Linked DNA regions of Homo sapiens: regions 2 and 3 are each linked to region 1. Evidence: fine-mapped expression QTL. A gene starts in region 1. Each other region holds a variant in brackets. All regions are shown on one strand. Distances are from middle to middle.

Region 1 (5,000 bases):
ATTCCCTTCCCTCACCCCTAGTCTCATCTTTGGACTCATCACCTGCCTGACCGGAGTCCTGGGTGTGGGCCTGGGTGTGGAGATCAGCCGCCGGCTCCGCCACTCCAACCCCCGGGCTGATCCCCTGGTCTGTGCCACTGGCCTCCTGGGCTCTGCACCCTTCCTCTTCCTGTCCCTTGCCTGCGCCCGTGGTAGCATCGTGGCCACTTATGTGAGTAGCCAGCAGGTGTCAAGGGGGATGGCGTGGGTCCAGGGTGGAGGAGCAGTCAGCGTAATGGCCACTCGAGGTGGAATGCCTGGTTTTGAATCACAGCTCTGGCTCTTCCCAGCTGTGTGACATTGGACAAGTGACTTAACCTCTCTGTGCTCAGTTTCATCATGTGTAAAATGGGGATATTAGTAGCACCTGTCTCACTGGGGTGTGATGAGGATTAAATTAGTTAATAGATGAGCTGGGAACATGGTCAACTTTCCATGTGTTAGCCCTTACTGTCATGAACCCCCGACCCTCTCTTCCCCCAGATTTTCATCTTCATTGGAGAGACCCTCCTGTCCATGAACTGGGCCATCGTGGCCGACATTCTGCTGGTGAGTTGCTGGGCAGCTCCAGGGTCAGCGCAGAGGCTGATGAGAGCAGAGTTGGGGTCAGGAGTGTTGCCTCTACCCCTCAAAGCCCAGCCTCAACCTACCTTCTGCAATAAATAACATCTGTAGCAGACCCCCGGCCTGCCCTGCGACCTCAACCCCAGGCACACCTCTGACCCCGGCCTAGGCGGATCCTTGGTGGTCTCCTGGCCCCCTGCCTCCTGCCCCCTGGAGCCCAGAGCATCCACTGAGCTCCACCAACTCCTCCACAGTACGTGGTGATCCCTACCCGACGCTCCACCGCCGAGGCCTTCCAGATCGTGCTGTCCCACCTGCTGGGTGATGCTGGGAGCCCCTACCTCATTGGCCTGGTGAGCATTATTTCTTGGCTGGCATGGGGTGGCTGGTGTCCTGAGCCTGGGCTGGATCAGAAGGCCTGGCCCTAGTGAAGTGTCTGTGTCCTGCGTGCTGGGCACTTCTCACCTTCCATTGTCAACTGGAGGAGAAAGATTTTGTCTTTGAATATTTCTACCAGTAAGGCCAGGGACCTCACCCTGGTGGTCCAAACTCCTCCTTTCTTTTCTCTTTTCTTTTCTTCCTGAGACAAGACCTCACTCTGTTGCCCAGGCTGCAGTGTAGTGGCACGATCATGGCTCACTGCAGCCTCGACCTCCTGGGCTCAAGCGATCCTCCCACCTCAGCCTCCTGAGTAGCTGGGATGATAGGCATGAGCCACTGCATCTAGCTCAAACCTCCTTCCCTTTCCTGGGCTCCACTTGTCTTTCTCCCTGGAGCTCAGGGGCGTGCCCTCCCTGGTTCATCCATGAGGCTGACTCCCCTGGCTTTCCTGTCTCCTCTCCCTGCAGATCTCTGACCGCCTGCGCCGGAACTGGCCCCCCTCCTTCTTGTCCGAGTTCCGGGCTCTGCAGTTCTCGCTCATGCTCTGCGCGTTTGTTGGGGCACTGGGCGGCGCAGCCTTCCTGGGCACCGCCATCTTCATTGAGGCCGACCGCCGGCGGGCACAGCTGCACGTGCAGGGTCAGTTAGGAGCTGTGCCCGGCCCAGCTTCTTGATCTGCCTGTCTGTCTGTCCATCTGTCTGCCCACTCCTGTGCACCTGGCAGCTCAGTCCACAGCCCTCCCCTTGTTTGGCCTCCAGTCTGTCTGCATCCACCCCTGGGGTGGCTCTGTGGCTGCCCCATCCATTTCCCGCTGCCTGTTTGCCCTTCTCTGGCTTTGTCTGTCTGTCCATCCAGCTCACCCTGGCTCTGACCCTCCCCCCTCAGGCCTGCTGCACGAAGCAGGGTCCACAGACGACCGGATTGTGGTGCCCCAGCGGGGCCGCTCCACCCGCGTGCCCGTGGCCAGTGTGCTCATCTGAGAGGCTGCCGCTCACCTACCTGCACATCTGCCACAGCTGGCCCTGGGCCCACCCCACGAAGGGCCTGGGCCTAACCCCTTGGCCTGGCCCAGCTTCCAGAGGGACCCTGGGCCGTGTGCCAGCTCCCAGACACTACCTGGGTAGCTCAGGGGAGGAGGTGGGGGTCCAGGAGGGGGATCCCTCTCCACAGGGGCAGCCCCAAGGGCTCGGTGCTATTTGTAACGGAATAAAATTTGTAGCCAGACCCCAGGTGCCTGCTCTCGTCTTTCTCTGGGTGGCCTCTGATCTTGCACCCCGTCTTCACCCCAGGGCTCCTGAAGACTGTGGGTCATTCCTCAGGGCTCTGGGTGAGTCTCTGCCCTTCTGGGCTGGGCGACTGAGATGGGGGACTGCTCTTCTCCGAGTGAGCTGGCTGAGTGTGACCGTGAGTCACGCCCCTGCTTCCCTGGAGCCTGTCCCTTGCCTCACAGGCCTGGCTGAGGTGGGGGTGGGCACTGCCCTTTGTACCCCAGAATTCCCACTGTCAGGGCCTCCCTGCTCGCTGCCTCCCCGGGTCCTGGATATGGAGGCCACGGCTGCCAGCTGGCAGGTGGCTGTCCCCGTCTTGGGGGGGGCCAGCAGACCCTTGGTGAGTGCCTGGGGTGGCTCCCGGGCCTCCTCCTGCCCCCTCCCCACTGGCGGGTGGGGTGGGAAGGGGGCGGGTGCAGCCGGCTGAGAGCTTGATGATTTCCTGCCCTCGCCCGGCGCTCACCACAGCTTCCTGCCGCAGGCGGGCGGGAGGGCGGGCACGGAGAGGCGGGCGCCGAGGAGGGGCAGGTAGGGCTGGGACGCAGGGGTAACTGGATCCCCCGACTTCAGCCCAGGCCCTGGTCTGACCACCCTGGGAGCAGGGACTTTCCACAGTCAGCTGGACGCACACTCAGCCCAGTAAAAGAGGGGACCCATCCCGGGAGCCCCGGGGAGGGCACAGCTGCCTCCTCCCGGGCTCCCCTGCCACCTGGTGCCTACCTGCCCCCTGCTCCCTGCCGGGTCCGGTCCTCACCCCATCTTCATCTGGCCTTGACTCTGCCCTTGAGGGGCCTAGGGGTGCAGCCAGCCTGCTCCGAGCTCCCCTGCAGATGGAGGAGGCCATCCTGGTCCCCTGCGTGCTGGGGCTCCTGCTGCTGCCCATCCTGGCCATGTTGATGGCACTGTGTGTGCACTGCCACAGACTGCCAGGTGAGTGGGAAACTGGTGGGGGTACCCAGGGCCCAGGGACACCGACGGGATCCTCATCCACTCCCAGCCCCTGTGTCTGTCCTGGCTCTGTCCCTGCCTCCGTCCTGATCCCAGCGCCTCTGAGAGTCCCTGGATCCCAGCACCTTCTGCCCTAAGCACCCCCTGTTCCTGCCTCACCAGCCCTCTCTTTCCCAGGCTCCTACGACAGCACATCCTCAGATAGGTGAGTCCGCCCCAGCCGCCCTGGGTCTCCCTCCACACCCCATGGCGGGGCAGGGCTGGGGCTTCCATCCTCCATCTTCCAGCCCCATCCCCAAGCTGTGTCTCCTTTACCAGTTTGTATCCAAGGGGCATCCAGTTCAAACGGCCTCGTGAGTACAAGGAGGGTCCCCTACCTTGGGTGCCAGGGAGAGGGTCCCCTGGTGTGGGAGTGAGCGTGAACCTTCAGACTTCCCCTGCCACCTTGGGGCTGCCCACATGGCCTTGACCTGAGCTGGGAGAGGGGAGATGGCTCCCCCAGGCCTGTCCAGGGTGTGGGGCTTTCAGGGGCTTAGTCTGTTCTTTGAGGCCTTGACGATGTCCGGAGTCCTTCTTTCAACTTGGTTCTGTGTCCTCAGACACGGTTGCCCCCTGGCCACCTGCCTACCCACCTGTCACCTCCTACCCACCCCTGAGCCAGCCAGACCTGCTCCCCATCCCGTGAGTAGCTGCTCAGCCCCTGCCCCTCCAAAGCTCAGCCCCTCCCCCTCCAAACTCCACTCTCTACCCCTTCACTTTTTTGGATTGGGGGCCCCTTTCCCTTTTGCAACTGCTGTTGCCCCCTGAGCCCCACCTCAGGCATGACCCCTGACCTTTGACTCCCAGAAGATCCCCGCAGCCCCTTGGGGGCTCCCACCGGACGCCATCTTCCCGGCGGGATTCTGATGGTGGTAAGTGTGGGGAAGGGTTCAGGCGGCGGGGGCTGGGAAGAAGATAGGCCTGGCCTGAGCTGACTTAGTCTCCCTCTCACCCTCTCTTTGAAGCCAACAGTGTGGCGAGCTACGAGAACGAGGGTGCGTCTGGGATCCGAGGTGCCCAGGCTGGGTGGGGAGTCTGGGGTCCGTCCTGGACTAGGCTGACCCCTGTGTCGTTACCCCCAGAACCAGCCTGTGAGGATGCGGATGAGGATGAGGACGACTATCACAACCCAGGCTACCTGTGAGTGGCCAGGTGGGAGGTGGGAGGTGAGGGCTGAGGCTGTGCGTCCCCCCTTGCTCACCGGCCCTTTTCACTTCCTTTCAGGGTGGTGCTTCCTGACAGCACCCCGGCCACTAGCACTGCTGCCCCATCAGCTCCTGCACTCAGCACCCCTGGCATCCGAGACAGTGCCTTCTCCAGTGAGTCAGGCATTTGTTTTTATTTTTAAATTTTTTTAGGGATAGGCTGGAGTGCAGTGGTGCCATTGTAGCTCGCTGCAGCCTTGAACTCCTGGGCTCCAGTGATCCTCCCAAGTAGGCTACTCGGCCTCAGCCTCCCAAGTAGCTGAGACCACAGGCGCATGCCACCACACCTAGCTTATTTAAAAAATTTTTTTTGTAGAGATGGTCTCACTATGTTGCCCAGGCTGGCCTTAAACTCCTGGGCTCAAGTGATCCTCCCACCTCGGGCTCCCAAAGTGCTTGGGATTATAGGCGTGAGCCACCATGCCCGGCCCTGTTCTTCTGATTTTCTCAGCTTTCTCTCTCTTCTTTCCTATCTCTGTGTCCTTTCCTTTATCATCTGGGAGATTTCCTTGTCTGTATTCTTCAACCCTTCCACTGCAATTTTATTTCTCCTAT
Region 2 (6,659 bases), 140 kb before region 1:
CTTGGGAGGCTGAGGCAGGAGAATCACTTGAACTCGGGTGAAACCCTGTCTCTACTAAAAATACAAAAATTAGCCTGGCGTGGTGGGACATGCCTGTAATCCCAGCTACCTGGGAGGCTGAGGCAGGAGAATCACTTAAACCCAGGAAGCGGAGGTTGCAGTGAGCTGAGATCACTCCATTGCACACCAATGGTGGCCAGTTTTTGAAATCTAGGATGATGGGGAGCCAGATCGGGATCCTGTGCCATGCATTTGAAGGTGGGTTCCAGACTTCATGTGAAGTTGTGTAGTTGATGACTGAGGTTCTGGATGACCGGATGGCTAAAAGCACGTGAGATGGGAGTCCGCTTCCCAGGATGGGACAGCAGTGGCACAGTTCCCAAGGATGCTGTCCCTGACTGGCTCTGGAACTGCTACATAGATAGCTCACCCAGCTGTCTAGTGACTATTTTCTCATCTTGAACTTGGCTTCATCTCAAGGTGTGATTCAAAGTTTCATTTCTAATATGAGTATCTCATGAATTACATACACCTCTTTATGTTGAAGGGTGAATGTTTATGGTCATTGGAATTAAAATCCTGATGGATGTGCAGCTGACTGTGGATGAGAGCTGTAAAGGTGAAGCTGTTAGTGGGAGAAGAGGGGAGAGGATTGGTTGGGAACTGGGCTTACTGGGGAGCAAGAGCAAAATTAGGCATTATGGGTGGGACAAGAAGATTGAAGCATGGGATGTGGAAATGACAGCAGGCTCCAGAGGAGGTAGTTTTTCAAGGAGGTTGAGAATTCTCTCGGAGACTTGACCTTGGTTTCCTTGCCTAAAATGGAGGTGATTTCACCTTTCCAGGATTTTAAGGAAGTGGCTGGTGCTCAGTGGTAGACGGGTGTTTCAGCTCTCACCAAAGCCAGAGAAAGCTGGCTGAGACCAGGACAGGAAGAGTGAAGGCTACAGTATTGGGGAAGAATCCCAGCATATGCAGATTTGGAACTTGGTAATAGGTGTACATGGTGGGGTGGAGAGAAGGGGTTATTAAAGAGGTTAAAAAAAAAAAAAAAAAAAAGGACTTTATGTGGTAGCCACTTGGATGCTAAAAATGGGCGGGGTTGGAGTCCCAAGAGCACTCAGCAGGTAGATGTGGGGTGGTGCAGGAGCTGCAAGGCTTCAGCTGGGCTCAGGATATTTGAAGTGTAGATGGAGAGACAGGTATCTACTATGAAATATGGCAAGTATTACTGGGTAATCTTTCAATTTTTTTTTTTTTTTTAAGAGACAGAGTCCCATTATGTTGGCCAGGCTGGTCTTGAACTCCTGGGCTCAAGCAGTTCTGCCTTGGCCTCCCAAAGTGCTGGGGATTACAGGTGTGAGCCACCACACCCAGCTGAGTAGTCATTTTGATGCTTTCTGGAAGGACTGCAGATTGTACAGCAGTCCGCCCGCATCTGGGGGGGATGTGATCTGAGATCCCCAGTGGATGCCCATAGTACCAAACCTTATGTATACTATGTTTTTTCCTATAGCTATGATGAGGTTTAGTTTCTAAATTAGGCACAATACTCTTGTGCTTCGGGGCCATCACTGAGTAAATCAGGGCTACTTGAACACAATCATTGGAGTGCTGTAACGGTCAATCTGATAACCAGCACGGCTACTAAAGTGACTAACAGGCAAAGGGATGGTTCACGTCCTGACAGGATGGATGGAGCAGGATGGCAAAAGATTTCATCATACTACTCAGAATGGTGCTCAACTTAAAATCTGAACTGTTAAATAGAAAATTCTAGGCCAGGTGCGGTGGCTCACACCTGTAATCCTAGCACTTTGGGAGGCTGAGGTGGGTGGATCATGAGGTCAAGAGATCGACACCATCCTGGCCAACATGGTGAAACCCTGCCTACTAAAAATACAAAAATTAGCTGGGCATAGTGGCGCATCCCTGTCGGCCCAGCTACTTGGGAGGCTGAGACAGGAGAATGGCTTGAGCCCGGGAGGTGGAGGTTGCAGTGAGCAGAGATCGTGCCACTGCACTCTGGCCTGGCGACAGAGCGAGACTCTGTCTCAGGAAAAAAAAAAAAAAAAAAAGAAAATTCCAGCTGGGTGCGGTGGTTCACGCCTGTAATCCCATACTTTGGGAGGCCGAGGAAGGTGGATTATTTGAGGTCGGGAGTTCGAGATCAGGTTGGCCAACATGGTGAGATGCCATCTCTACTAAAAATACAAGTTAGCCAGGTGTGGTGGTGGGTGCCTGTAATCCCAGCTACTTGAAGGCTGAGGCAGGAGAATCACTTGAACCCGGGATGCAGAGGTTGCAGTGGGCCGAGATCGTGCCACGGTACTCCAGCCTGGGTGACAGACACTGTCTCAAAAAAAAAAAAAAAAAAATTCCAGAAATAATCAGACCAGTGTTGACAGTGGATAACTGAAACCAGGGATAAGGGCAGAGACTACTGTATGTTTACCATCTTTGAGCAGAAATCTCAAAGTTGGAAGGGAACTTAGCCTTCAGCCAGCCAGAAATTCCTCTTGGCAGCCCGTCAGCCTTGCCTTGAGCACTGAGGAGAAGACAAATCTGCCCTGTCATTGGACTTCTTTTTGCAAAGTTCTTCCCTCTTCCTCTTCTCTCACCCACTTCCCTTAGTTTGCCTCTGTTCTGGAGTCAAAAATCAGGTTTTGCATTTTCTCAAAACAGCTCTTAAGTTGGGCCCAAGAGCCCTCCCTTCTGGGAGCTCATCTTAGCCATCCTGGGTGTGTATTCATTTGTCAGGATGCATTTGTGATAGGGGTGCCTGTTAACCTCTGCCGAGCCTTGCTTTGCTTGGTGTCGGCATCCTTGCCAGTCATCACTCCCAAGTTTTTGAAATTCACTCATAGTTTATTCCCTGCATATTAGAGAAGTGGCCTTTTTCTTTCTTTTTTTAAATTTATTTTTTCTTTCCTTTTTTTTTTTTTTTTTTTTGAGAAGGAGTCTCACTGTGTTGCCCAGGCTGGAGTGCATTGGCGCAATCTCGGCTCACTGCAACCTCCGCCTCCCTGGTTCAAGTGATTCTCCTGCCTCAGCCTCCCAAGTAGCTGGGATTACAGGTGCCTGCCACCACGCCCGGCTAATTTTATTTTTAGTAGAGACGGGGTTTCACCATCTTGGCCAGGCTGGTCTTGAACTCTGACCTCATGATCCACCCGCCTCGGCCTCCCGAAATGCTGGGATTACAGGCGTGAGCCACCGCGCCTGGCTATTTTTTCTTTTTTATATAGAAACAGAGTCTCCCTATGTTGCTCAGGCTGCTCTGGAACTCCTGGGCTCAAGGGATCCGCCTGCCTCGGCCTCCCAAAGTGCTGGGATTACAGGCATGAGCCACCACGACCGGCCTTTTTCTTTTCTTTTGAGACAGAGTCTCACTCTGTCGCCCAGGCTGGAGTGCAGTGGCGCAATCTCGGCTCACTGCATCCTCTGCCTCTCGGGTTCAAGTGATTCTTGTGCCTCAGCCTCCTGAGTAGCTGAGACTACAAGCGCAAGCCACCATGCCTGGCTAATTTTTTTTTTTGAGACGGAGTCTTACTCTGTTGCCCAGTCTGGAGTGCAATGGTGTGATCTTGGCTCACTGCAACCTCTGCCTCCCAGGTTCAAGCGATTCTCCTGCCTCAGCCTCCCAAGTAGCTGGAATTACAGGCGCCTGCCACTACGCCTGGCTAATTTTTGTATTTTTAGTAGAGACGGGGTTTCATCATAATGGCCAGGCTG[G/A]TCTCGAACTCCTGACCTCAGGTGATCTGCCTGCCTTGGCCTCCCAAAGTGCTGGGATTACAGGCGTGAGCCACCGTGCCTGGCCTCGGCTCAAGTATTTTTAAATCAAGTTTTCTTAGACATTACACACTTAATAAGTTGACCCTTAAGTGATTGGGGTTCAAACTGCACAGATCCACTTACATGTGAATTTTTTCAAATACAAGTTACACCGAGTCTGCCTGTCTCCCCTTTGGCCTCCTCCTAAGAAACGTGAAGACAATGAGGGCCTTTATGATGATCCACTTCCACTTGATAGTGAATATATTTTCCTTATGATTTTCTTAACACCTTCTCTAGTTTTATTGTTTTTTTGTTTTTTTTTGAGATAGAGTCTCGCTCTGTCACCCAGGCTGGAGTGCAGTGGCGCGATCTCAGCTCACCGCAACCTCCGCCTCCTGGATTCAAGCAATTCTCCTGCCTCAGCCTCCTGAGTAGCTGGAATTACAGGCATGTGCCACCACACCCGGCTAATTTTTTTGTATTTTTAGTAGAGACAGGGTTTCACCATGTTGGCCAGGCTGGTCTCGAACTCCTGACCTTGTGATCCACCCACCTCAATCTCCCAAAGTGCTGGGATTACAGGCGTGAGCCACCGCGCCCGGCCACTCTCTAGTTTTAAGAATACAGTATATAATACATATAACACACAAAGTATGTGTTTGTATGCTATCAGCGAGGCTTCTGGCCAGCAGCAGGTTACTAGTTACATTTTGGGGGAGTCAAGTTATATGTGAGGAGCCAGACACGGTAGCTTACACCTCTAATCCCAGCAGTTGGGGAGACCAAGGTTGAGCCCAGGAGTCCAAGGCTGCAGTGAGCTAGGATGGTGCCACCGCACCCAGCCTGGGTGACAGTGAGACCCTATATCTCTTTTTTTCCCTTTGTTCAGCCTCCCCATAGAGACCGTCGAAAATTGCCAATGCTGATTATATTTCAAGTCATCATGGAGTCATTGGCTATGATACTGCCACTGCACAAAGCTGGCCCCATCTCAAAAACAAGTTATATGTGGATTTGTGGCTGCATGGAGGAGGGCTGACACCCCTAACCCCTGCATTGTTCAAGGGTCAACTATAATATAAACATAACTTCACTGAGAAATCAAAAAATTTGTGACCTGCTTTATTGTGGTAGTCTGGAAGCAAACCTACAGCATCTGAGGTATGCCTGTCCAGTCCCTGTTCCCACAGAATGTGAATGGATGCTAGACATTCACTTAGTATTCCGAGGAAACAAGATGGGTTTGGCACCTGAGCTGAAGCCATGCTGGCTCCAGAGCGATAGAACATTCTTTCCCACTATCTCCCAGGAGGCTGAATAACGGCATCCTACTGTGTCTAGGCAATCACTAAGCTCACTGGACTTGATTTATCCGTTAAAACTGCTCTGGGATCTCACAAGCTCCCCATCTGTCTGGGGTTCAACACCCTTTTTGTCCTCCCCTATCCTCTCCAATTTGCACAAAGGACACAGGACACAGGCTGGCTTACTATTCAAAGTTTACTGACCTCCCCAGCCAGGCAGGCCAACCCTTCCGAGCAGGGGAAATGTCCATCTAGCTGCCCTCTGCTGGGTTGCAGCCTATGCCATGAGAGGGTACTGGAAGCAGGAGGGAGCCCTGGCTAGGGCAGGCCTTAAACGCAAGGGAAGCTGAGCAGAGATCTGCACACTCAACCCCATTTGATATTCTTCTCCTCCTCAGTCATGGCCAGCGTGTTGGTGACTAGACCGGTGCCAATAGTCCGGTTGCCATCTCGCAGGGTGAAACGCTGGCCTTTCTCTAAGATCATTGGCTGCCGCAAGATTAGGTTGAACTTCAGGTCCTCCCCGGGCATGGCAAGCTCCTAGAGTAGGAAGAGAAGGATCATGCGTGGCCTCCAGGGTGCCTTCATTCCTTAAGTCTTTTTTGGCTACCTCGGAGGTTAAGAGTCATGGGAGAATGCAGCAGGGGAATGGTTCTGCCTGGGGACAGCTTCATCCATCCCAGGCTGTCAGGCAGATGCAAACAGCATATTGAGACAGGAAAACATAAAAGAGACCAGTGATGAGTGTTCCTAAGGTATGTTCTTGAGAAAAAAATGTCTAGGAAGTTGTGGGTTATGCAGGTTTCTTGGTCACAGAACTTCTTAAGCCTTCATATATAATGAAACGCTCAAAAAGAAGAGACCTTTTCTAGGAAATCTTTCTGTGGGTACATGCTGGCAGAGCTAAACTTTTAACCTGCTTCAGCTTAGGGCACACTGGATGAGGACTCCCGCCCCTAAGTCCATGGGCCATGCCCCTTCTGTTGGCTAGCAGCGGCAAGCAGCCCCTTTCCACCTAAGGAAATAAAGCCACTCGGGTTGTCACAGTGTATCTTTGGAACTATGAGTGAAGCAAAGGTAATATAAAAAGTCCCCCCTCCACCCTACATTCCTCCCACCCACCGTACCTTCTCTGGGGGCAGGATAATCCGACAGGCCATGTCCCAAGTCAGGGAGAACATGACAGGCATGAAGTGGGACACAAAGGGCTTGTGGCGGCCACCTTCCTCCTTGCTGAGGATGTAAACCTGGAGGAGAGCAAGCAATGACGGTGAGCTGGGCTTGGCTGGAGGCTGGGGAGAGCTTGGCTCAACCCTGCCCACCGTCACCTGGAGCCCTCACCTGGGCCTCCACCTTCTGGTGGGGCTTGATGGAACCTGGCTTGACCATGACCAGGCCCCGCCGCAAGTCCTCCCGCTTCAAGCCTCGGACCAGGGCCCCGAGGTTATCTCCGGCCTCGGCCCTCTCCAGGCTCTTGTGGAACATCTCAATGCCTAGGACGGAAAGGGAAAAGGAGCAGGGAGAAGGAAGGCGAATGTGAGACAGAGGGAAGGCACAAGGGATCTGCCGGGGTAAGGC
Region 3 (10,938 bases), 870 kb before region 1:
CCACCACTTCTCCCTTGAATCTGAAAACTATAGATGGTGGGTCTGTGCTTACCTGGTAAACATGTTGAGGAAAGTCTGTATGATTTGCTCAGTGAAAGGCACACCCATCTGTACTCTAAGGCCTCGAAACAGAGTGAGGAAGAAGCTCAGCATCTCATCAGTCACATCTGAGGAAAGGGGCAGAGATATCGTCAGAGGCTTGCACACAGTGAGAACCAGAACCCTGGGCTTCATCAACCTACTCCTGAAATCTGCACTATCAGCTTTCTCTACAGCTTCCTGCTGGAAACATTTCCCCAACACCATCAGGGCCAATGATGGAAAGTGGAAAACGATTAGGGACATGCTGAGAAAATAGTTCTGGTATAGGGAACCTCCACCTGGTGGCTCACTACAGGAAATGAAGGTCATCTCGAACCCTCCCTCATTGCCCGACATCCAGTGATGGTCAGAGTTTCACTGGAGAGGGATCACTTTGTGCCCACACTGATGAATGCCAACTGGGTCAACACCTGAGTGCTTAAGCCATTTCCCCCTATGACTAATAATCCCTGCAGCTGGGTCAGGGGTTAAGTGGTTGAAAGTGGATAATGAAGGTGTATTTAGGTTGCATGGCCCTGGTCCATTAAATGGATTAATTGCAGAAAATACTGGTTACATATAGGGCAGTTTCACTTCCAGATCTCAACAATCATCTTGTGTAGTGTGTTTCAGCCCTAACTGCACGCAATCTGCTTGCAAGAGGCAATGAATATTTGCTGACTGAGAAGTGCCTGATATTTCTCTTGTAAAACTGACAAGACTACTATAATGCTGTCATGAGAGCTAGGCAAGTACATCCACAGAGCTAGAGAGGCCCTCTATCACTGACAGTGACAGACAAGGGTGAGGGGAACGATCTCGGCAAATGCACCTTGCCACAAAATAAGGAGAACTAAGCCAAAAAAGCTCTCTTGCCTTCTCTTGTAGGTGCCAAGGCCCATATGGAGAGCTCTGCTCACTTTTCCAAAGGGCCTTGGCCCTAGACTCCACAAATAAACATCACTGCCCTTTCCCCTCAGTACCGGGTTTCGTTGCACGGAACAAGTCAAGGCCTGTACTGCACCGACTCAGTGTGTTCTACAGATCTAAGTGGGTATTCTGGCCCTTGTTAGCACCACCCACCAGTGGGGCCTCTGGGCCAGCTCCTACCTGACTGATGGATAAAAGCTGGAAAGAGGGCCAGGGAGACCTGAACAGATTCCTGCAGCGACTGGTAGCAAATCTGTCGAGACTTGGTGGACTCCCCCGAGATATTCTCCACAATATCTTCTAAGACGCTGAGTGTCTGGTGGATAATCAGTTTGGCTGCAAATCAAGATGAGTTGCAGGTTATAAGCTGTCTGGGGAGAAAGCATGGTAAGAGGAGACACAAGGGAGAGGGAGGAAACTTGCAAAGGTACCAAGAAGATGATCACACGAGTCTCACTAAAGGAACAGTCTCTTGATTACAATATAAATTCTCCTCTCTTTATGTTTTAGTTTTTGTTTTTACTATTATTACTGCCAGGACTCCAGAAGCCTGGAATGTGTGTTGGGGAGAAGATGCCTGCCTGCCTGCTTGCTCAGGTTTTTGCCTCTGTTTTGCCTCTGGCCATTGGCAACAAGTCCACAGAAGAAAAAAGATAAATAAATGTACCCCCAGGTTGGGTGCCTTGGATTTAATCAAATCTAAAAGATGGTGAATAGACTGGTGAGAAAATGAGTGTCATAAGGTCACAGGCCAGGACGGACACATGCAGCTCAAACCTTGTCACTCAGTGGGATGCTACTCCAGCCCAGTAATCCCACAAACACCTGCCATGCACATGTAATGGTGCTGGCTGCAAGAACAACCTGCCTGATCCATCTTTGGCCTATTAGCCCCGTAGCTTGATAAGGCATATAATTACTGTTATTATGTTATTGACAATACATAATGCTAACCCTGAGATGACTTTTGACTCCATATGGCACACAGGGAAAACAGATGTAGTGGGCCGCAAACAGGCAGAGGTCAGAGAGCCCTGGCTATGAACCACAGGTGACCATCTGAAGGCTATGTGCCATGGGCAGGACCCTCATCCATCTGGGAGAGCCGACAACCCCACTCTGGCAGTGCTGCAGTGGGGATTAGAGACAAGGTCCCGAACGATGCTAGCAGTGTGCCAGCCATCTAAGAAGGTCCAGGACGGAGATGCTGCCATTGTTCCCAGCGCGAGTGGAGTCACCCTCTTAAGATGCAGAGTTTCCCACCAGCCTCCCCAAAGTGACGCCCATGGCTCAGCCTGAGCCTAGCAGACTCAACCCTGGCGACCACCAGAGGCTGAGCCAGAGCTGGGCTGAGAGCTGCCTCCCACTTGGCAGCAGTCTCTGGGTCCCCCGAACCCCAGTGCTCAGCAGCCTCTGTGGGACTGCCGCAGCTTTGAGGAAGGGGTACGGCAGAAAGAAGACATGCTCAGGAGGCAGATGGAGGCAGGCCTGGCCCTGCTGCCCCTCATCTGAACACGTGGATAGAGAGCATCGCCCCACTCACAGGGCTGAGGATGAAGGAAGACGCTTCTCGCCACAGGCCTGGTCCTGGTCCCCCAGTCACAGTGACACTGGAGAGTAAAGGAAAGGCTCACCCACACTGCTGAGCAGGGAGCCGTCCACAACTACAAGCACATGGACTTCTACTCAGCTAGGAAACTGCACTCAGGGCAGCCACTTCCTCAAGAACGCACAGGCAACAGGGGAAGCAGTTTAGAGCAAAAAACCAACAGTCAAGAGACCAAAATCTGACCTCTGGCATTTAAGGAAATTCAAACGAGGACAAAAGATGTATTTAAAAAAAATACAAGTCAAAAATTGAAAGCACTATAAGTATATAATAATAGGAGAATGGGGTGGGTAACTGTTATACTTCCATGAGACAGGACATTATAAAACCATTAAAACCTTTTTTCTTTTCTTTTTTTTTTTTTTGTTTTCAAGAAGAAAGAGGCAATGCAGCAAAGTGGTGCAGAACACAGGAGCTGGAGCCATTCAGACCCAAGTCCAACTCTTGACCTCGCCCACTTTCTCTACAGTCCTGAGCAATTACACCTGCCAAGCACCTTCCCAATGGACAGACTGGCAGGCCCTACTCCCAACAGGCATCCAGACTGAGCATCACCAAGGATGGGACAAACAGAAGCAATGCAAGAGGAAATGCGAACACGAACATGCACCACTACACCACAACCTATGGAAACAATCAGGCAAAACAAGACTAGGAGACATATGACAAGAAAACAGGCCTGGACGCTTCAAAAATGCCAATGTCACGAAAGACAAAAACTGGGCATGCTCTTCTGGATCAAAGGAGACTAAAGAGATATAACAACCAAACACAATAAAACTATCCTAGATTACATCCTGGATTTTTTAAAAGCAAAAAAGAACAATTTGGTAACAACTGGGGAAAGTGTTAATATGGCTACATTTTAAATAACATTATTGTACCAATGTTTAATATCTTGTTCTATATAGATACAAAGGTTAAGTAGTCAGAGATGAAGTGTCAATTATCTGCAACTTAAACAGCTGGCTTTTAAGAAAAAGTGTGTTGCAGAAAAAAGCATAAATGTGGCAAAACATTCACAATTAGTGAATCTGGGTGAGAGAGATGCAGTTGTTCATTTTCTTATTCCTTTGGCTAGTCTGTAGGTTTGGAATTTTTTTTTTTCAAAGTATAAAGTTGAGATAAGAAAAATGAAACTTTCCAACCTTAATTTCAACACTGTGGAATGAGGATAAGACATACCTCACAGGGTTACAGGGTTACACAGGAAGTTACATGAAATAACGTATACAAAGTGCTCAACCCAGTGCCTGCACACAGTCAGCATACTGAAGACGTCATTCACATACTACACTGCAAACCCTTTCAGCACACAGTGGCATCACACCTCCCTGCCCTCTGAGTTAAGCCAAGGCCATGTAGCTGGCTCTGGCCAAGGAAATAGAGGTGGAAGTAGTGTTAGTTTCAGGCAAGACCTTTAAGAACCACTACGCAATTCACCACAATCCCTTCCAGAGTGAACACACTGAAATGGAGCCTTCCACAGCCTGGGTCCCTATGTGACCTCCCCACTCTGCTGACCCAAGCTGGACATATAGTACAAACAACATATCCTTTTTCTTCTTGTATTAAGCCACTACACTTTTGGAGTTGTTTGTTACCACTGAGCATATCCTCGCCCATGCAGACCAACATAACTCCCATGTAAGATAAAGTGCGGAAAGGAGACCATTACACGTGATAAAGCATGACTCCACAACAGCTGGATGCAAGCCCTGGGCAAGTTCCTTAATCTTCTAGACCTCAGCTTCCTCATGCTAATCATCAATCAAGATCCTAACAGTACCGAACTCATAAGGCTAATGTAAGAACTGAATGAATTACTGATTTTTGAAAAATACTTAGAACCAGGAAGAGACCAACACCAGACTTTGAAAGTTGATACTGGCATAGCCAGAGACTTGACGATGGATATAGAATCACCAAGGCAAGAGCCTAGTACACAGTATACCCTCAATATGTCAGCTACTCTCATCCAGCTATGTAACCATGAAGCATATTTTAAAATAGAAAAGGGAAGGTAAGAAGGAAGCATGGTTAAAATGGTTACTTTCTAAAATATTAAAACTGGTCAGATTTAGGAGTTACTTTTTCCTTCTTTGTATTATTCTATTTTAATGTATTTGTACAATGCACATATGTTAATCTTCCTAGTTATAAAAGTAGTGTTTTTTAAAGAGTATAGTATTTATTACTATTTCTGACATTTCACAAAGCATTTTTGCTGACATTCCATAAATGGCACCATCTAATAATGTTCTATTATTTTCTTTTTGTGAAAGGAGCTCGTATTTTTAAAATATTTCGGTACTATTTGTTATTTCAAAGAGATATTTCCTTATTCATTTTTTTCCCTCTTTCTTTAATATAAACAAGCAAACTTCAAGTGCCATTTTTTAAGAAACTAAGCTCTTTCAAAACCTCTGGAAGATCTGTATTTGGAAAAAGGTTGAAACCAATCTGGAAAAATAGTTCTTGAGCGCATTTTCCCAGCGTGTAGAGGTGAACTGCTTTGTTTGCCTACACAAGCATCTGAAATAGATCAATAACCACCTTAAGATGTATTTTATAGACAGAAGGCACCATCACCAGTGTCTTCCATTTTTTCTTAGGGCTCCAGCATTTTTTACATTTTAAATAAGAGAAGGGACAGTTTGATTCTGGAAATAGGTCTGGCTGCTGTCTTAACTGAATTCCAAAGGTAGCAGGATCCCACCCCCAAGTATGACTTCCTGCTCAGCCTCTGTGGGACTATGAACAAAAAAAATTTACCTCAGGAGCCTCCGGGGCAAATCTCATCTGCCACAAAGAACAATGCCTGCCTACCTCCTTCCCCAGCTGTCCTAGCCTAGGGGTCACTTACTGTCATCCAGTGGCATCTTTCTCTGTGGGGCAACAGCACTGGGCTTCAGGTTGCGATAGTCCCGGGAGAGTGCAGAGATGAGGCTGGCGTGGTTGATGGAGCGCACGGGCCACTGCTGCTCATTCTCTGGAAGGTTTGGCCACGGAAGCAGCAAGATGTTAGAGAGGGCTCGGCACACCAACACCTGGGCCTACAAGAGACCCCAAAGGCATCCATCAGAGGTCAGAGCCAAAGACCGTGGTGCGGCATGCCCAACACAGCCTTCAGCACCC[G/A]CTGGCTGCACACCTGGAACCCTAGCCCCCAGGCTCGTTTCTTGCAACCTGGGCAAGGCCTTTGGTCCAACTGGAAGGCAACTTAGGGAGGAAGATGAAATGAAGTAATAGCACCATGTCTAGGTCTAGCATAACCCAGAGCTAACCTCTCGTTTCCTCTCTAATCTGATACTTGAAGTATTAGAGAGGGAAAAATCACACTGCAGACACTGAATCTCAGGCATTGTTCAGCTGGTGGCTTCTGAGTCCTCTGAGAAGCTACTTAGAGCAGGACTTGCAGGAGAATCCGTGACAATCCATGCCCCTAGCACCAGGTCACATCCTGCAATCACATCCTGGTGCCCTCTGGTACCCTCTTCAAACCTTCCTGCCCTCCCTCCTGTTAGGTGGTTTTTAAACTTCTAGCTTGAGCCTCCTTTGAGGATTCTAAGAAAATGCACTTGCCTGGCACTTCTCAACCCCAAAGAACACACACAGAACAGTGACAACAAAAACCAGACTGCTTTGAATCAGAAAGAATGCAAAGAGAATTCTCACAACACTGGCCGAAATTACCAGGCTGCAAAGCAGCAAAACCTTTCTGCACACTGGGAGGTGCTTTTCCACGCCTCAATCAGCACACTGACTGCCTGCCTTAGAATGGGCACGATGAGAATCACTGAGTCTGTGTCAGTGCCACACAATAAGAAATCTGTCTATGCTGGTACAGCCTGTAAGCTCTGAGTACAAAATCAAAGGCCAGACTCTTCTTCCTCAGCTTCCTTGGGTCTCAGTCACACAGCCCTGGGGACCCCGGGGGAGCTCTGGGGCCTCACCTTATCGACAAGTCGCAGGGCAGAGGCATCAGTGATTCTGTTGAATACTTTCTGCACTGCAGGGATGCTGATCAGAAAGACGGGCCGCACGGTGGTGGCCAGTGAGACCAGTAAGTGGCACGCAGATAGCAGCAGCTTGTCTTGGACCTGCAGAGGGAAGAGGGCACGTCAGCTCACCACATCCCTGTAAGACTGGGATTCGAACTTTGCTGAGGCAGCCACAAGCTATGTGTCATTCTTGGTTTCCAAATTACACCACCTAGGCCCTATCTAGCTCAAGAATTTTTCCTATGATGACTACAAGAGAAGCCCATCTTCTCTGTCATGTCCACAGCTCCTGCCGCAGCCATTATCACCTCCTCCCGTTCCTCCTTCACAGTCACCAGCAGCCTTGAACTCAGGCACTTCTCAGCTTAGAGTCTGCAGTGGCTCCCTATCAGCTATTAAATCACACTCCCTGGCATGTCATCCAGGTCCTAGAATTCTTCACCTCACTAATTGTTCCAGCAGAGCCAAGATCTCCCCGAGCCCCCGACTCTTCTGTGCCTTAACACTCAGGCCAGTCTCTCCTACTGCTTTCCCTTCAGCATGCCTATCAAATACTTGGTTCAATTACCACTGTTGCTTTCAAATTAGCAAAGGAGAAAAACGTGTTACAGATGGGACCTAATGCTGGTAAGACTAAGATAAAAACAGCACACCAAAAAGTCAAGGCAGGCAGAATTACTTCGGGAAAAAAATTACTATGATTTCCCAAAGTCACAAAATATTCCTAACCTTTAACCCTTACTCTAAGATTACCTATAACCTATAATACTTACTCTAAGAAGATTACCTAAAAGGGTAAAGCTACATTCATGAATGTGTGCATTTCAGAATTCTTTATAATTTTTTATTTTTTAAGGGAGGCAGCCTAGAAGTCCAGCAATGGCTAGGAAAATAATGAAACATATTCCTGATGGGATAGGACTATTTTCAAAGTTATAATTATAAATACAACATAAATTTATGGAAAGCAACACATTGTTATTAAAACAATACACTGTTTAAAAATGTATAAAATGTTATGTATGACTAAAACTACAAAAAAATTCAAAGAATAAACACATATATGCTCTAGTAATATAGCAGACTTGGAGGATAACATAATAGAATCTGTCCAGTTTTAACATGGATATAACCTTTGACTCAGTAATTCCACTTCCAGGAATCTATCCTTCAGGCCCACTAGCATATGTAAGATGGACATAAAAGGAACTCATTTCTAGCAATAGGAAAATTATTATACATCCTCACAAAAAAAAAAAAAAAAAACCACTGGACATTTTGACAATCTGAAGTTGCTGTACATATGTAAAGGAAAATGAAGGCATACTGTTAGGCAAAAGCAGCTATATCTCCAGCTATCTACAAACTTAGTTATTACTTATTACATAAAAAGAGAAAAAAGTCTGGAAGGATATACAGGCATACCTCAGAGATACTGCAGGTTCAGCTCCAGACCACCACAATAAAGCAAATTATGCAATAACGCAAGGCACACTAATTTTTTTGTTTCCCAATGCATATGTTTTGTTTACACTATAGTCTATAAAGTGTGCAATAAGCATTATGTCTAAGAAAACAATGTACATATCTTAGTTAAAAAGTAGTTTATTGCTAAAAATGCTAACAATCATCTGAGCCTTCAGAGCGGTAATCTTTTTGCTGGTGAAGGGTCTTCCTTGAAAGTGACTGCTGCTGACTGAACAGGGTGGTGGTTGCTCAAAGTTGGGGTGGCTGTGGCAATTACTTAAAATAAGACAACAATGAAGTTTGCTGCATCGATTGACTTCCTTTCATGAAATATTTCTCTGGAGCATGCGGTGCCGTTTCATAGCATTTTGCCCACAGTAGAACTTCTTTCAAAGTTGGAGTCAGTCCTCTCAAACCCTGCTGCTGCTTCATCAACTGAGTTTATGTGTTATTCTAATCCTCTGTTATTTCAACAATGTTCACAGCATCTTCACCAGTTGATTCCATCTCAAAAACCCACTTTCTTTGGTCATTTACAAGAAGCAAGTCCCCATCTGTTCAAGCTTGATCCTGAGATTGCAGCAATTCCATCCCATCTTCAGACTCCGCCTCTAGTTCTCCTGTTATTTCCACATCTGCAGTTACTTTCTTTACTGAAGTCCTGAACCCCTTAAAGTCATCTATGAGGCTGGGAACCAACTTCTTCCAAACTCCCATTAATGCTGATATTTTGATCTGCTTCCATGAATCATGAATGTCTTTAATGGCATCTAGAATGGTGAATCCTTCCCAGAAGGTTTTCAGTTTATTTGCCCAGATCCACTGGAGGAACCACCATCTATGGCAGCTATAGTCTTATGAAACGTATTTCTGAAACAGTAAGACTTGAAAGCCAAAATTACCCCTTGACCCATGGGCTACAGAACTACAGAATGGATGTTGTGTGAGCAGCCATGGAAACTATGGAAACTAATATCTTTGAACATCTCCATCTGAGTCCTTAGGTAACCAGGTGCATTGCCAATCAGCAGATTTTGAAAGGAATCTTTTTTTCTGAGCAGGTCTCCATAATGAGCTTAAAATATTCAGTAAACCATGATGTAAACAGATGTGCTGTCATTCAGGCTTTGTTGTTCCATTTATAGAGACAGGCAAAGTAGATTCAGCATAATTCCTAAGGGCCCTAGGATTTTCAGAATGATACATGAGCACTGGCTTCAACCTGAAGTCTCCAGTTGCAGTTGCCCCCTGACAAGAGAGTTGGCCTGTCCTCTGAAGCCAGGCACTGACTCCTCCTCTCTGGCTATCCAAGTCCCAGATGGCACCTTCTTCCAGTATAAAGCTGTCTCATCTACACAGAAAATCTGTTGTTTAGTATGGCCACCTTCAGCAGTGATCTAGAACTTCTGGAGAACTTGCTGCAGCTTCTCCATCAGCACTTGCTGCTTCATCCTGGAGATGGCTTCTTTCCTTAAACCTCATGAACCAACCTGTGTTAGCTTCCAACTCTTCTTCTGTAGCTTCCTCACCTCTCTCAGCCTTCACAGAATTGAAGGGCCTGATCTGGATTTGGCTTTGGCTTAAGGGAATGTTGTGGCTAGCTTGGTCTATCCAAACCACTGAAACCTTCCTCATATCAACAACAAGGCTGTTGTACTTTCTCATCACTCATGTGTTCACTGAAGCAGAAATTTTAATCTCCTCCAAGAACTTTTCCTTTGCATTCACAACTTGGCTGTTTGGCTCAAGAGCCTTTGGCCAGGCCGGGCGCGGTGGCTCACGCCCGTAATCCCAGCACTTTGGGAGGCCAAGGCGGGCAGATCATGAGGTCAGGAGATCAAGACCATCCTGGCTAACATGGTGAAACCCCGTCTCTACAAAAAATACAAAAAAATTAGCCAGGCAAGGCGGCAGGCGCCAGTAGTCCCAGCTACTCAAGAGGCTGAGGCAGGAGAATGGCGTGAACCCGGGAGACGGAGCTTGCAGTGAGCCAAGATCACGCCACTGCACTCCAGCCCGGGCGACAGAGCGAGACTCCATCTCAACAACAACAAAAACGACAAAAAAAAAAAAAAAAGAGCCTTTGGCCTATCCTGGCTTTTGACACGCCTTCCTCACTAAGCTTAATCATTTCTAGATTTTTATTTAAAGTAAGAGACATGTGACTCTTCCTTTCACTCGAACACGTAAAGGTCATTGTAGGGTTATTAAATGGCTCAGGGAATAGGGAGGCCTAAAGACAGGAAGATGGGGAAGCCTCCAATCAGTGGAGCAGTCAGAACACACACATTTATCAATCAAGTTTGCAGTCTTTGGTTTGTGGCACTCCAAAATAATTACAATAGTAACATTAAAGATCACTGATCACAAATCGCTGTAAGATATAGTAACAAAAAAGTCTGAAATATTCTAACAATTACCAAAATGTAACACATGGAAGCACCAAATACTGTCAAAAAAATGGTGCTGACAGATTTGCTTGATGCAGGGTTGCCATAAGCCTTCAACTTGTAAAAAACACAGTCTCTGTGAAGCGCAATAAAGGGAAGTGCAATAAAATGAGGTGTGCCTGCACAACCACTGCCCAACTGTGCTTACCGCGCGAAGGAAAATGTTTCAGAGGTATCACAACTTTTTAGTCTGGAAATCTGAATGATATTTTACTTTTTCACAGTGAGCATGTATTCATGTGGAACTCAGATAACTAAAAAAGTAAAGTTGTATCTGAATGCATGTAGGCTACAACTAAAAAGGAACATGAAATAAAACAGATGTATAACAGCAGAAAGATTTATGGGTCTAACTCTGTGTCATATTTAGATTTTCTAGTAAATGGGTATAGGAACAGAA

The links. PIP is the estimated chance that this variant, and not a neighbour inherited with it, causes the effect.
Region 2: its variant is the best candidate, but not a certain one, in a credible set for the expression of LAT in whole blood (TOPMed, PIP 0.83).
Region 3: its variant is the best candidate, but not a certain one, in a credible set for the expression of LAT in sun-exposed skin (GTEx, PIP 0.72).

What each region holds. Positions count from the first base shown.
Region 1 is chr16:28,982,335-28,987,334 of GRCh38, forward strand. LAT (linker for activation of T cells) reads left to right here and starts at 2,718. Exons shown (of 12, transcript NM_001014987.2): 1 at 2,718-3,183; 2 at 3,379-3,406; 3 at 3,520-3,554; 4 at 3,801-3,882; 5 at 4,048-4,112; 6 at 4,206-4,235; 7 at 4,323-4,380; 8 at 4,465-4,559. The coding sequence starts at 3,084. It overlaps SPNS1 (SPNS lysolipid transporter 1, lysophospholipid), which reads left to right. Exons shown (of 12, transcript NM_032038.3): 8 at 22-211; 9 at 523-588; 10 at 858-956; 11 at 1,452-1,623; 12 at 1,871-2,209. The coding sequence ends at 1,965. RefSeq lists silencers at 2,479-2,758, 2,779-2,838.
Region 2 is chr16:28,837,528-28,844,186 of GRCh38, forward strand. TUFM (Tu translation elongation factor, mitochondrial) reads right to left here. Exons shown (of 10, transcript NM_003321.5): 8 at 6,423-6,574; 9 at 6,209-6,328; 10 at 4,884-5,621. The coding sequence ends at 5,448. It overlaps MIR4721 (microRNA 4721), which reads right to left and starts at 6,480; the gene lies at 6,392-6,480. RefSeq lists a silencer at 4,316-4,473. The variant G/A (reference allele first, on the strand shown) is at 3,736.
Region 3 is chr16:28,106,331-28,117,268 of GRCh38, forward strand. XPO6 (exportin 6) reads right to left here. Exons shown (of 24, transcript NM_015171.4): 16 at 6,574-6,720; 17 at 5,487-5,676; 18 at 1,192-1,347; 19 at 53-167. It overlaps LOC124903669 (a long non-coding RNA gene), which reads left to right. Exons shown (of 2, transcript XR_007065032.1): 2 at 2,995-3,413. It also overlaps the pseudogene TPRKBP2. Among named protein-coding and RNA genes, the nearest start is that of GSG1L, 48 kb to the left of the region's middle. The variant G/A (reference allele first, on the strand shown) is at 5,759.